2 linked regions of the Homo sapiens genome follow. The protein of the gene in region 2 interacts with the protein of the main gene of each other region in a pairwise test. Each region holds a gene or a part of one and is shown on either strand. Other genes may lie near its edges.

Region 1 (6,822 bases), on a different chromosome or scaffold from region 2:
GCTGGAGATGCTGGCTAAGGCGAAGCTAGGCCTTAGGGGAGGCAGGAGGTGGGTCAGGCAGAGGGTGTGGCTGGCATGCCAGGGTGAGCCCAGCCCACCTGCAGGTACAAGAGTGAGGGGCAGAGTACAGGTGGTATGACCGAGCTGAGCTCATCACCTGCAGATACAGGTTTGAGAAGGGCTGTGGAGGTAAGGAAGGTCATGGCTGCAGGTAGGGGCCCTAGGCTCAGGAGGACCGGGGGCCAGTTCGGGTGGTATGTATGGGAGAGTCAAGCTCACCCCTTTGCAGGCACAGGAGTAGGTATGTGGAGAAGGCTGGGCTTTGGGATGGGAGGCAGAGGGGACAGCCTGAGCTGTGGGCCCACCTCACCAGTCTGCAGAGGGCTGGAGGTGGGGATCTACTCATGCTTTCTGAGGCTGGCCAGTCGATGTGGCTGCTGTGACCACATGGTCAGAATTAGGCAGGGATGCCTGGGCACATAGTTCACTTTGGTAACAAAACCCCCAACTCAACCAGTGTGGGTGAAAGAGAAATCCACTCTATACGCTGGCTCATGCCTGAATCTCAGCAGTTAGAGAGGCTGAGGCAGGAGGATCACTTGAGCCCAGGAGTTTGAGGCTTGCCCGGGCAACATAATGAGACCTCATCTCTACAAAAAAATAAACTTAAAAAAATTTAGCCCCGTGCAGTGGCATGCATCTCACCCTGGGGGGCTGAGGTGGGAGGATCACTTGAGCCTAAGGAAGATAGAGCTGGCAGTGAGCTATGATCACGCTACAGCACTCAATCCTGGACGACAGAGTGAGACGCTGTCTCAAATTAAAAAAAAAAAAAAAAAAAAGGAAACTCATCAGAGAACCTGGGAGGGAGGGTGGGGTGCTGCCAGTTTAGGCACTGCCCAGTGGCTTCAGCGGCTCCCTGTGGGAACCCACTTTCCTGACTGCCCTCCCCTGGATGCCAGGCATGTGATGATCTGAGACAGAATGGCCTGGGGCCTGGCTGTTGTGCTGGGGTCACTGTGGGTCTCACACCGTTGCTCCTGACCTCTGCACGTGTGGCCCCTGAGGTCCATAAGTGAGCAGTCCCACTCAAGCAGCTCCCACTGCACCCATCCAGGGCCAGTGGGGTGAGATTCAGAGTCTGGGGGATCCCTGGGCTCTGCCCATTTGAGATCTTTGGGAATGACCAAGTCTAATGGGAATGACAAGTGTGTCAGGAGATAGGACTGTGACACCCAAACATCTTGGCTGTGGGTTTATGTGGGAAGGCACAAGAAGCTGGGTAGGACGTTCATCAATTAGAATAAGGGTTTGGAGTCAGGCACACCCGGCTACAGCCTTTTATAGGTTATGTGACCTTGGAAAGATCACTTAACCTCTCTGAGCCTCTATTTCCCAATCTGGGAAGTGGGGATAATTATAGACACCCCCCCTCCTCCACACAGGGTTATTGTTAGATTTAGATAGGCTGGGGGCTTGGTGGGAGTTTTGTAAGCTGTTAAGTGCTTTGCACAGGTGGGAGTCCCTGACTCCCTTGGTCACCCCTGCAGCTGCTGGACATCGCCGGGAATCAGCTCACAGAGATCCCCGAGGGGCTCCCCGAGTCACTTGAGTACCTGTACCTGCAGAACAACAAGATTAGTGCGGTGCCCGCCAATGCCTTCGACTCCACGCCCAACCTCAAGGGGATCTTTCTCAGGTAGGAGCCCACTCGCGGCCCTGTACACACCCCCGTGGGGCCCACCCTGGCTCCAACGGGACAGTTGATGCACGTGGGAACAGCTTGGCTCCACTGCTGCCTGTGTAACCACGGCTCAGATCTCAAGGGTGGGGACAGTCCTGGCCAGGCCCGATATGGTTCCTAGGTTTGTAAAAGGGCTTTGGAAACGTTAGAAGCCAGTGCGCATGGGCGTTGTGAATGTTACTGTGGCAGAAAGGATGCTGGACAGCATCTTCCTGGTTTGCAGCTGAGAGAGCTGAGGCCCTGAGAGCACAGGTGACTGCTGTGTCTGCAGCCATCCAGGCTGGGTCCGGGCCTCACACTCAGGAATAGATGTTCAGGCCCTCCCTGGCTTCTGGGGCTAAGAGATGGGGATTTGGAGTGATTCGGGGGATGCAGCTCCCTGAGGATATGAGGGGCTTCCATGCAGCAGAGCCAGGGTGGTTCTTCCCAGCACTTCCCACAATCCCTGCCCCCAAATCAGAGAGAAGGAGACAAGGCAGAGATGAGTGTGCTCCCAGGAGCTCGGTTGCCCAGAAAGCCCTGGGCTCGATGATATCAGGGTGGCTTGACATGTGCCTCAGGCATCTGCAGGGTAGCTGAAGCACAGAGAGTGAGGGGCCTGAGATCAGAGCCACAGCCTCCACCTTTCCACCCCTGAGTGTGGCCCTGGCCTGGCTCAGCGCTGGCCTTGCCTTTGTGCCACTCCACATCAGGCACTGCGGTGACCCCTGGCTACCGCAGCCCAGGAGCCTCAGGCCTTGGGGTTAATGCCAGGGATGGCATAGAGACAGCTCCCAAAGTTGTGGCTTCCAAAATAGCAGTGAGAGTGTGCGCAGAGAGAGACCCCTCACTTTGCAGAGACTGGCCCAGAGCCAGCCCCACCACAAGCTGCAGCTGCCCTGACCGGCCTGTACCTTCCATCATGTACTGCGCTCTCAGCCCCTGGCCTTTCCCGCCTGCTGCACCACTTTCCGGGAGGGCCATTCCCTCCCCTGTTACCTTCTGGAGAGGCCAGTCGGGGGAAGGGAGGGTTCCTTGGGGGTTGGGCTCCTGGCATTGACTGCCTCGATGCTCACACAGGTTTAACAAGCTGGCTGTGGGCTCCGTGGTGGACAGTGCCTTCCGGAGGCTGAAGCACCTGCAGGTCTTGGACATTGAAGGCAACTTAGAGTTTGGTGACATTTCCAAGGACCGTGGCCGCTTGGGGAAGGAAAAGGAGGAGGAGGAAGAGGAGGAGGAGGAGGAAGAGGAAACAAGATAGTGACAAGGTGATGCAGATGTGACCTAGGTATGTGGCCTGTATGGGGCAGCACTCACTTCTGCTCCCTGCATTTTCCCCTTCCTGACCCTGGTAGAGGGTCTTTCTGTCCATTCTTCACCCTCTCGCCTCTGCTTCATCCACCCATTTAGCAAATTTATAAGAGCACTTGGGATGTACCAGGCCGTGGGTGAAAGGTTGAAGCCTACGGGAGGCCCACACCTTCCAGAAGATTCTCACCCAGCATGAGGGTGCTGTCACGGGAGTGACCGGGGGGCACTGGACATGTGGGTCGGGGCTCAGGAGTGAGGTCTGGTCTGGAGAGAGGGATCCAGGCATTGTTAGCCTTGAAACAATCACTCAAGCTGCAGGGGGCTGGGGAAGCTTGCCATGGGAGAGTGAGTGAGGGGGGCAGGTGACTGAGACAGAGCAGTTAGGAAAGGAGGTAGGAAAACCCCAGACTGCCGTGGGCAGAGGGCATTTGCACATGTATGTAACACAGGCACCTACATGTGCACATGCACACAAATGCACACGGATGCACCAACACACATACATTCATGTGCACACACGTCTCAACATGTACACACATCCACAAACCATGCACAGGCAGAACACACACACCACACACATGCACACAGACACACATACATGCTTGTACCCCATGACACATTTGCATGCCTAGACTATGTACATACGTGCACACACGTGTGTACATGCATGTGAGTACATGCACACAAAACACCCATGCGTACCCACGTATACGGGCCCTTACATGCACACCTGCATGCACACATGTACACATGATGCGTGCATGCACAGGCCTGTCTAGAAGTGGGGACTTGGCTGTGTCAGTGCTGCTGAGGGGCTGAGGGAACTGAGCACTGAGGGAGCTGACCACTGCGGAGCGCCCACTGGATTTTTCCACCTGGAGGCTGTCTGTGACTTTGTAGCAGCAGGGGAAGCTGGGATGAGAAGAGCAGCTGGAAAGGAAGTGGGTCCAGGCACTGCAGACCAGCCTTTTGAGAAGTTTGGCTGTGAGAGATGAGAGAGGGCAGAGGTGGGAATGGAGTGTGAAGTTCAGGAAACGCTCATTTTCTGAGCCTCACAGGAAGCAAAGGCCTCTCGAGGGGAGCCCTGTGTGAGGGGCTCTGGCAAGATGCCCCGACACACACATGCATCTTCCACACGCACCCTCTTAAAGGAGGGGGCTGGCTTGGGTGCTGGTGGGAAGAGGCTGGCCTGGAGGGGGAGTCACCGATGTAGGAAAGAGCTGGCTTTGAGGGCCCCTGTGGGAATGGTAGAAGTTGCTGGCTTTAGCAGGAGGAACAAAGGGCAGGGTGGCTGCTGTCACAGGCAGATTGGTGGCTTGGTGGCCAGATGTGAAGCCATGTCAGCCGGATCCCTCCAGTCTTCCGTTTTCTCTGTGCAGCAGGGAGGTTCTCCGCAGACCAAAGGTATGGAGAAAATGGACAGGTGGATCCACCCACAGCTGAGTTTTTCAGCCAAGAGTTCAGGACAGGAGGGCAAGGAACAAGGGAGTGTGTTGGCCGGAGGCTGGCTGCAGGCATGGGTCCTGGGGTCAGGTTGGGTAGGGAAGGAGGTGCAGATAGGAGGGCTGGTGGGCAGGGACTCAGAGAAAGACATTGGAGAGGAGCCAGGAGCGGCTGTGTGGTCGGAGGAGAGAGGAGAGCTGGTGAGGAGTGAGCCAGGCTGGGGGTCACAGGGCCAGGACGTAGCCGTGGGAGGGGCTGCCGGGCCACTGTTGAGTGTTGACTGAAGTAGGGCCTGGGACGAAGAGGAACCAGAGGGGGCTGTTGAGGGCCACTTGGGTGGGTGACAGAGGGAGCTGGGAGAAGGGCGCAAGTTGATGGTGAGAGAAGAGTGTGCACAGAGTTGGGTATCCGCAAGTGTGGAGGGGCTGGCAAGAGGCTGAGCTTGGGGGTCACCTTCCCCAGCTCCCAGGGCCCGGGAGTATGAAGGTAGAGCTGGTTCTCTGAGGTGTTGTCCTCACACAGAGTTGGGGTGGGTGACAGGGTGACTGGCCATCCAGTGGGGACACCACAGCCCTCATGAGGGGCTGTGGAGTCCTGGGGTGGGTGAGAATCTGCCCCATCTCAGGTCAGTTGAGTGGGGCTCTGGGAGAAGCCCTGGGGAGTGGCTGGTGGGACCCAAAGGCCTTCTGGCACCCCGCTGGCTCTGGGCTCCCAGGGCCAACGCTCCCTCCCTACTCATAGTAGCCTGGCCTTTCCAGAGCCCCCTCCAGCAGGGCTCCCCACAGCAGGTCCCCTCAGGCTGCTTGGGCTGGTGGGTCTGCCCTGAGCTGGCCCCTGACTCTCTTACATGTTCCACAGGACGATGGACCGCCGGACTCTTTTCTGCAGCACACGCCTGTGTGCTGTGAGCCCCCCACTCTGCCGTGCTCACACAGACACACCCAGCTGCACACATGAGGCATCCCACATGACACGGGCTGACACAGTCTCATATCCCCACCCCTTCCCACGGCGTGTCCCACGGCCAGACACATGCACACACATCACACCCTCAAACACCCAGCTCAGCCACACACAACTACCCTCCAAACCACCACAGTCTCTGTCACACCCCCACTACCGCTGCCACGCCCTCTGAATCATGCAGGGAAGGGTCTGCCCCTGCCCTGGCACACACAGGCACCCATTCCCTCCCCCTGCTGACATGTGTATGCGTATGCATACACACCACACACACACACATGCACAAGTCATGTGCGAACAGCCCTCCAAAGCCTATGCCACAGACAGCTCTTGCCCCAGCCAGAATCAGCCATAGCAGCTCGCCGTCTGCCCTGTCCATCTGTCCGTCCGTTCCCTGGAGAAGACACAAGGGTATCCATGCTCTGTGGCCAGGTGCCTGCCACCCTCTGGAACTCACAAAAGCTGGCTTTTATTCCTTTCCCATCCTATGGGGACAGGAGCCTTCAGGACTGCTGGCCTGGCCTGGCCCACCCTGCTCCTCCAGGTGCTGGGCAGTCACTCTGCTAAGAGTCCCTCCCTGCCACGCCCTGGCAGGACACAGGCACTTTTCCAATGGGCAAGCCCAGTGGAGGCAGGATGGGAGAGCCCCCTGGGTGCTGCTGGGGCCTTGGGGCAGGAGTGAAGCAGAGGTGATGGGGCTGGGCTGAGCCAGGGAGGAAGGACCCAGCTGCACCTAGGAGACACCTTTGTTCTTCAGGCCTGTGGGGGAAGTTCCGGGTGCCTTTATTTTTTATTCTTTTCTAAGGAAAAAAATGATAAAAATCTCAAAGCTGATTTTTCTTGTTATAGAAAAACTAATATAAAAGCATTATCCCTATCCCTGCAGCCTGTGGCTATGTCTGTGCTTGCTTCCTGCCAGGTGCTGGCCTGGTGCCGGGTGGAGGGGGCAGGATACAAGCCCCTCAGCGCCCTGGCCAGAACAGCAGACATCAGTGGAAAGTCCAGTTCTCGGGGCCCGCAGAGTAGCTGCACAGGCAGGCATCCTGGGAGAACAGGGCATAGCCTCAGGCGAGGGGGCCTGAGGTGTGTGCAGATGGCCCACTCGGGAATAGTAGGTGAGGCCTGAACCAGCACACGCGGCCTGTGAGCTTGCTGTGCATTCCCAGAGGTGGAGCATCCAAGCAAAGGACCTCATGGGCTTTGGGCCTGTTAAGGGCTCACCTGGAGGGTCATGGGTCACCTTTGCACTGACAGGGTGTTACTAGTGGGTTCTAGAGGAGAGCAGGGGACTGGAGGCAGGCCTGGGAGCTGGAGCAGAGCCGACTTGGGGGCCCAGGTCTCCGCAGACCTTTCCAGGAAAGAGCTAACAGATGCACCCAGTG
Region 2 (7,040 bases):
TGCCACACAGTAAGTGGTATATCTGGGATGGTAAGCAGAGCCCGCACTCTTGTGTATGTTTGCTATATTGTCTCTTAGGAGTAAGAGACAGTTTGGTGAGAAAAGGAGAGGTCATGGTGCAAATTCTCATGTAAAGTTGAAGAGACCACTATTTTTGATGTTTGTGTCTGCTCAGGAGGACCAATATTGAGCCTGGGGATGGTGGCAAGAGGAAAATGAATTAGTTCCTCTCTGTGCATTTAATCTGGTGTGTGTTGTGATTTAGAGAAGATCTAGTGTCTTTATTCTTAAATTTTATACTATTGAATGCATTTTGTATTACTGGGACACATTTGTCATCTATAGATCTTCTTTGGTGAAATGTCTTCAAATATTTTGCCCATTTTATACATTGATTTGTTTTCTTATCCTTGAGTTTTAAGAGTCTTCTATATATTCTGGATATAGGTCATCAGATACATGATTTGCAAGTATTTTCTCCCCACCTATGGCTTATATTTTCCTTCTCTTAATTATTTTGAAAGAGAAGATTTAAATTTTGAAGTTTAATTTATTATTTTATAGATCTTGCTTTTGATGTCATATCCAAGAAATCTTTGCTAAGTTTACATAGATTTTTCTCTTTTTTTTCCTAGAAATTTTATAATTTTTGGTTTTATGCTATTCCATCATTCATTTGACTCAATTTTTGTATATGATGTGAGATGTAGATTACATTGTTGTTGTGTGTGTTTTTTTTTTTAATATGGAAATCCAGTAGTACCAGCCCCACTTGTTGAGGACTATGCTCTCTCCATTGAATTGAACCTTTGGATAAACCAGTGGCTTGTATATGTGTGTTCTCGACTTTCTTTTCTGATTCATTGATTTATTTGTCTTCCTCTGTGCCAATTTCACACTGTCTTGATTACTGGAGCTTTGTAATAAGTAGTCTTGAAATCCAGTAGTGTTTTTCCTCTAAATTTTTTAATCTTTTAAAGTTGTATTCAGATCCTTTACATTTCTATATGAATTTCAGTAGTATCTTGTCAATTTGTACAAAAATAAGTCTGCTGGGATTTTGACCTGAATTGTGTTAAATCTGTAGCTCGATTTGGGGAGAATGAGTATCTTAACAATATTGAATCTTCTGACCCAAAAACAAGGGATATATCTCCATTTATTTAGATATTACAAAATGTCTACAATATTTTTGAAGTTTTCAATGGACAGACTTTGCACATATTTTTCTGATTTATCTCTAAGTACTTCATATTTTTGATGCCATTGTAAGTGTTGAGTATATAGAAGTATACTTGATTTTTTCATATAGATCTTATATTCTGCAATCTTTTCAAACTTTCTTATTCAATTAGCTTTTTATATGAATTCCATTTGATATTCTCTGTAGACAGTCATATCATCTGCAAATAGAAATAATTCTACTTCTCTACCACCTGGATGCCTTGTTTTTCCTTGCCTATTGCTAGAACCTTCAGTATAATGTTGAAGTGGTGAGAACAGATTTCCTGGCCTTTTTTTCTGATTCTTACGGGAAGAGTCTTTCTCTGCTCGATATAATGTTGATTATAGGTGTTTTGTGGATGCTCCTTGTCAAGTTGAGTTCCTTTTTATTTCTGGTTTTCCGAGTTGTTGTCTTTTTAAAATTGGGAATGGATGGTGGATTTTGTCAACTGCTGTTTTGTCTCTACTGACATTATCACTTTGTTAGTTTATTAATATTGTATGTTACTTGGATTTCTGAGCATTATATCAACCTCGTATACATTGGATAACTCCCCCCTTGGTTATAATGTATAATTTTTTTATTATGTTGTTGGATTTGATTTGCAAAATTTTTTTGCTTAGGATTTTTACATATGTGTTCATGAGGTACATGGATCTGTAGTTTTCTTTTCTTGTAATGCATTTGATTGGTTGTAATTCTGACCTTATAGAATATAATGGGAAGTATTATTTCCTCTTCAATTTTCTACAAGAGTTTGTGTATATGGGGTATTATTTTCCCTTAAGTTTTTGGTAGAATTAATCAAAGGAGACATCTGTGCCATAGTTTTATTTGTGGAAAGAAAGGTTTTTAACTACATATCCAGTAGATATAGGGCTGTTCAGCTCATCTATATATTCTTGAGTGAGCTTTTGTAATTTGTGTCTTTTAAGGGATTCACCCGTTTAATTGATGTTCTTGAATTTATTGGCATAAAGTTACCTATAATATCTGTAGAATACATATGATGTTACCTCTCTCACTCCTAATATTGGCAGTTTGTGTCTTCTCTCTTTTTTGCTGATAAGTCTGACTGAAAGTTTACCAATTTTATTTTCTTAAAGAGCCAGCTTTAATTTTTATTAATTTTTCTCTATTTTTTTCTGCTTTTCATTTCATTGATTTCTGTTATAATCTTCATTATTTACTTTCTTCTGCTTATTTTGGGTTTAATTTGTTCTTTTTCTAGATCCTTAAAGTGGAAGCCAATATTTGAGACCTTTCTTTATTCCTACTATAAGTATTTAATGCTATAAATTTACCTCTAAGTAATGTTTTAGCTGTATCCTGCAAATTTTGATATGTTGCTTTTCTGTGTAATTTTTTTTTTTTTTTTTTTTTTTTTGAGACGGAGTCTTGCTCTGTCACCCAGGCTGGAGTGCAGTGGCACGATCTCAGCTTACTGCAAGCTCTGCCTCCTGGGTTCACGCCATTCTCCTGCCTCAGCCTCCTTGTAATTTTTAACTCTGTTCAAAATACTTTCTAATTTTCCTTTTTATTTCCTTATGCCCAAATTTAAAAAATTACTTTTGTATGTTTTGTATAGATTTTTAGGCTAGAGGGTAAACCCTGTTTTATTACTCTATTATGTCCAGAACCTGACGTCACTGCTAATCTTATGATGAAGTACTGGTCCTAGCCCTCAGCTTTCTCTGTCCTCTGGTTTCAGGAAATGAAAACCTCTTCATAGTGCTCCCAGTCCAGTCCTCTGGTTTCACACTTCCTCTCTCAGCCTTTCCTGATCAGTTGTGTTTAGCAGCAGCCTTTATACAATACAATATAATTGTCCTTTAAGTTACAGTTTCTCTCACATTTCTCTAACACCTGACATGTTACACTTACTAGTACATTCCCTTCCACTTGTATCCTATCTCTGTTCAACACCAGTGCAAGTCTTTACAATTGCATAACTGCCTTGGGCCAGGCACTATCTATGTTCTGCCTACCAGGAATAACAGTGTCCTTGCCACTGTGACAACATGTAGTCTGACTCCAAAATCCTATCTTAGCTAGCATCTGCTTTCATGCACCACTTCTGGTATCAACTCTTCCAGTTTAGGCTCCTCAGGAAGCCGATATCTAGGTGGGAATTAGCATGCAGGAGGTTTATTAGGGAGCATTGTTGGGGTGGGTAGGAAAGAAATCAAAATTGAGCAGAGGGGGAAGTTGGGCTGTGATATGTCTAACAAAGGCCTTAGGAAACCAACCAGGAGATCTAAACTTGGAATGAACCTTCTGACTTGCCCAAGTTGGGGTGAAGAACTGGGCCTTTATAGCCCCTACATCAACCAGTCATTGAATGTGGACTTTCCCAGGAAAGGAAAGGCCATGACCTTGGCTGAACAATCTCTTCGCTGAGACAGCTCATGAAGAAGGTGGGCAGCAGAGGGCTGTCTGTCAACAGAGCCCCCAGCAGCTAGAGGAATTAATCCTTCAGTTTTGAAGAGGGACCTGAGAAGTGCATCATGTCATCCACGATGGCCTAAGGTGCCCTTTCCTGGTTTATCTAACAAACATCTACTCACATTTCAAGATTCAGCTCAGGGCCGGGCGCGGTGGCTCAAGCCTGTAATTCCAGCCCTTTGGGAGGCTGAGGGGGGTGGAACATGAGGTCAAGAGATCGAGACCATCCTGGCTAACACGGTGAAACCCCGTCTCTATTAAAAATACAAAAAAAAAATTAGCCAGGCGTGGTGGCAGGTGCCTGTAGTCCCAGCTACTGGGGAGTCTGAGGCAGGAGAATGGCGTGAACCCGGGAGGCAGAGCTTGCAGTGAGCCAAGATCGCGCCACTGGGCGACAGAGCGAGACTCTGTCTCAAAGAAAAAAAAAAAGATTCAGCTCAGACTCCTCCTCCATGAAGCTTCTTCTGACTTCCTTTTTCTCAGTAGCACCGATCACTGTCTCCTGTGCACTCATCATACTTTCTATGTTCTTCTCTCAGTGCCCCATAGCACTTAGTGCTTTTCAGTAGCACACTCCAGTAAGTCGTCCCTAAAGATATCACTAGATTGGGATATAGTACGGCTGTTGCCGCTCATTATGATGAGCCTGGGTCAGCAAGAAAAGACAGGCAAGTGTACAATCCTGCTTTTAAGAGTTTCCATTGAAAATGATTAAAAAATATTTTAGATGCTGCAAGAGGTGACCTTCACCTGTTTGTAACCCCTTTATTTCTATTAACTCTCAATTTCATATACATATCTGATAGGTCTTTCAAGATGTCTGAATGCTACAAAATCTTCAATAAATACATATTAGTTGATTTTATTCTAATCTAGTAGGAAAAAAAGAGTTGTTTACAAAACATGATGTAAAGCCTGAAGGAATGAACACTAAATTATTGGCTTTGGGAGTTTTGAGAACTTTGCTCAATGTAATGAAAAACTTTAGAAACAAACACAGCAGGACAGCCTCCAGTATCCCAGAAACCTCCTCACCGTGCCCTCTGTCCCTGCTCCCTGCAAAGTCATTTTGCTGATACAGCCTCAAATTTTGGAGAACTCATTCATATTAAGGAATTGGAAAGAAACTTAGGTGAGCTGATGTGTTTTGATTAAACCCTTGGATTCCTCCACAGCATCTTTTAGTGAGGGGAGTATGTATCTGTGGTTGAAGCTGTCAATATCCTTCATCAAGAGCTTATTTCTCCAGTCAGACAGATATTGGTTAGCACTCAACCATCTGCATCTTATATTTTGCTGTTTGAAATTTCCTAAAATAAGGAAGTGAAAGCAATATGTTTTATATTGTGCCTTGGCATATTTTTCTTCTATACCACATAATAGGTACTATAATACCATTTTTCTTGAAATAGTCTTATGATAACATATTAATGCTTCCAAAGCATTTTATTATTTATTTCTTTACTTATTTATAGAAGGAAGGGAACTGACATTTATTGACCAATGACTGTATACCAGGCACTGTGCTAAGGGCTTTACTTAATTATTTAATCCTCAAAAAAATTTTAAGAAGTAATGCTAACATTATCTCCAGTTTACAGATGAGAAAACTGAAATAGATGAACAGTTTTGCCCAAATCTACGTATCATAAACAGGTAGAGAATGGTGGGGCAAAGATTTGACATTATCTTTTCATGACAACACTACACATCCCATCCCTTAGGTTATGTTCCAGTTCTAAATAATAGTAGAAGTTCATTCTAAGTTCTTAGCTCTCCAGGGCTCTTTACAATGGACTCAAACTTGCCTAGCTTTTTTATATCTCCCAATTCCTTCAGTGCTGTGCTGTAGCCATAATGAATGCCGCATAATTTACAGAATCTTCTATGGCCTCTCTCCTTCTGAGCTTGCTTCTTGGAATTGTCTTTTATCTGCCCCATTCTCTTGAATAATCTTAATCATCCTCTGTGTCTCAGCTGAAGATAGGAAGCTTGCCATCTTCTCCGAAGTCTTGATTAGAAGCTGTGGGTATCCCTGACCACCCACATGACCCGAGTGGTATGCACACTGTGCTTCTTTCCTGCCTCTTCTACCAGGCAACCTCCATGAAAGCAAGGACTGTCTGCCGTTGTGTCTACAACATCATTACTATATTGTTGCTGCAAAGTGAAAGAAGATACACTTGCTTCCTGGCCTTTGCACTGTGCTGTTTCTTCTGCTCCATTCTCTTCTTTTTTTCTGGTTAATTGTCATGTGTGCTCTGTATCTCTGTCGACATTGCCTGCTTCTGAAGCCGCAGCTGGGTTGGGTGCTTCTCCTAGATGCTTCATGGTATCCAGCTCTTCTCTCAAGCTCATCCTGCACTGTTGTCACTGCCTCTCCTTAATTCTGGACAGAAAATTCCTTGAGGGCAGAGTTTGTATCTTTTTTTTTACTTTTTAATTTAATTTTGTTTTTATTTGACATAATTGTACATATTTATGGGATACATAGTGATGTTTCAATACATATACTGTATAGTAATCAGATCAGGGTAATTAGCATATCCATTATCTAAAACATTTATCATTTCTTTGTGTTGGAAACTTTCAATATCGTCCTTCTAGCTATTTCAAACTATATATTATTGTTTTTAATTTTATATTCAGAGGGTACATGTGCAGGTTTGTTACATGGGTATATTGGATGATGGCTGGGGTCTGAGCTTCAAGTGAACCCCTAACCCAAACAGTGAACATAGTAGCCAGTAGGTCGTTTTTCAACCCTTGCCTCCCCTCCTTCGCCCATTTTGGAGTCCTCAGGGTCTATTGTTTCCATCTTTATGTCCTTGTGTACCCACAGTTTAGCTCCCACTTATAAGTGAGAACATGCAGTATTTGATTTTCTGTTCGTGCATGAATTCACTTGGGATAATGGCCTCCAGCTGCATCCATGTTACTGCAAAGGACATGATTTTTTCTTTTTATGGCTGCATAGTATTCCATGGTATATGTGTACCAAATTTTCTCTATCCAATCCGCTGTTGATGGGGACTTGGGTTGAATACATTACTTTGATATTGTGAATAGTGCTGCAGTAGCACACGAGTACAGGTGTCTTTTTGATTGAATGATTTATTTTCCTTTGGGTAGATACCCAGTAGTGAGATTGCTAGGTTGATTGTTCATTCTATTTTTAATTCTTTGAGAAATCTCTATTCTGTTTTCCATAGGGGTTGAACTAATTTGCATTCCCACCAACAGAGTATAAGTGTTCCCTTTTCTCTGCATCCTTGCCAACGTCTATTATTTTATGACTTTCATAATAATAGCCATTCTGACTGGTATGAGATGGTATCTCATTGTAGTTTTAATTTGCATTTCTCTGATG

Evidence for each region. Proteins that work in one complex are often made in the same cells at the same time.
Region 1: the proteins of DNAAF11 (region 2) and PODN interact in binary tests that used the Homo sapiens proteins (3 or more experiments, as listed by UniProt).

What each region holds. Positions count from the first base shown.
Region 1 is NC_000001.11:53,079,178-53,085,999, forward strand, and holds the end of PODN (podocan precursor), read left to right. Parts: intron 1-1,515; exon of another isoform or gene 1,516-1,550; coding exon 1,551-1,699; intron 1,700-2,803; coding exon 2,804-2,984; 3' UTR 2,985-3,011; intron 3,012-5,335; 3' UTR 5,336-6,317; downstream 6,318-6,822.
Region 2 is NC_000008.11:132,665,513-132,672,552, reverse strand, and holds part of DNAAF11 (dynein axonemal assembly factor 11), read left to right. Parts: intron 1-7,040. UniProt on the Homo sapiens protein: Involved in dynein arm assembly, is important for expression and transporting outer dynein arm (ODA) proteins from the cytoplasm to the cilia. Acts as a crucial component in the formation and motility of spermatozoal flagella.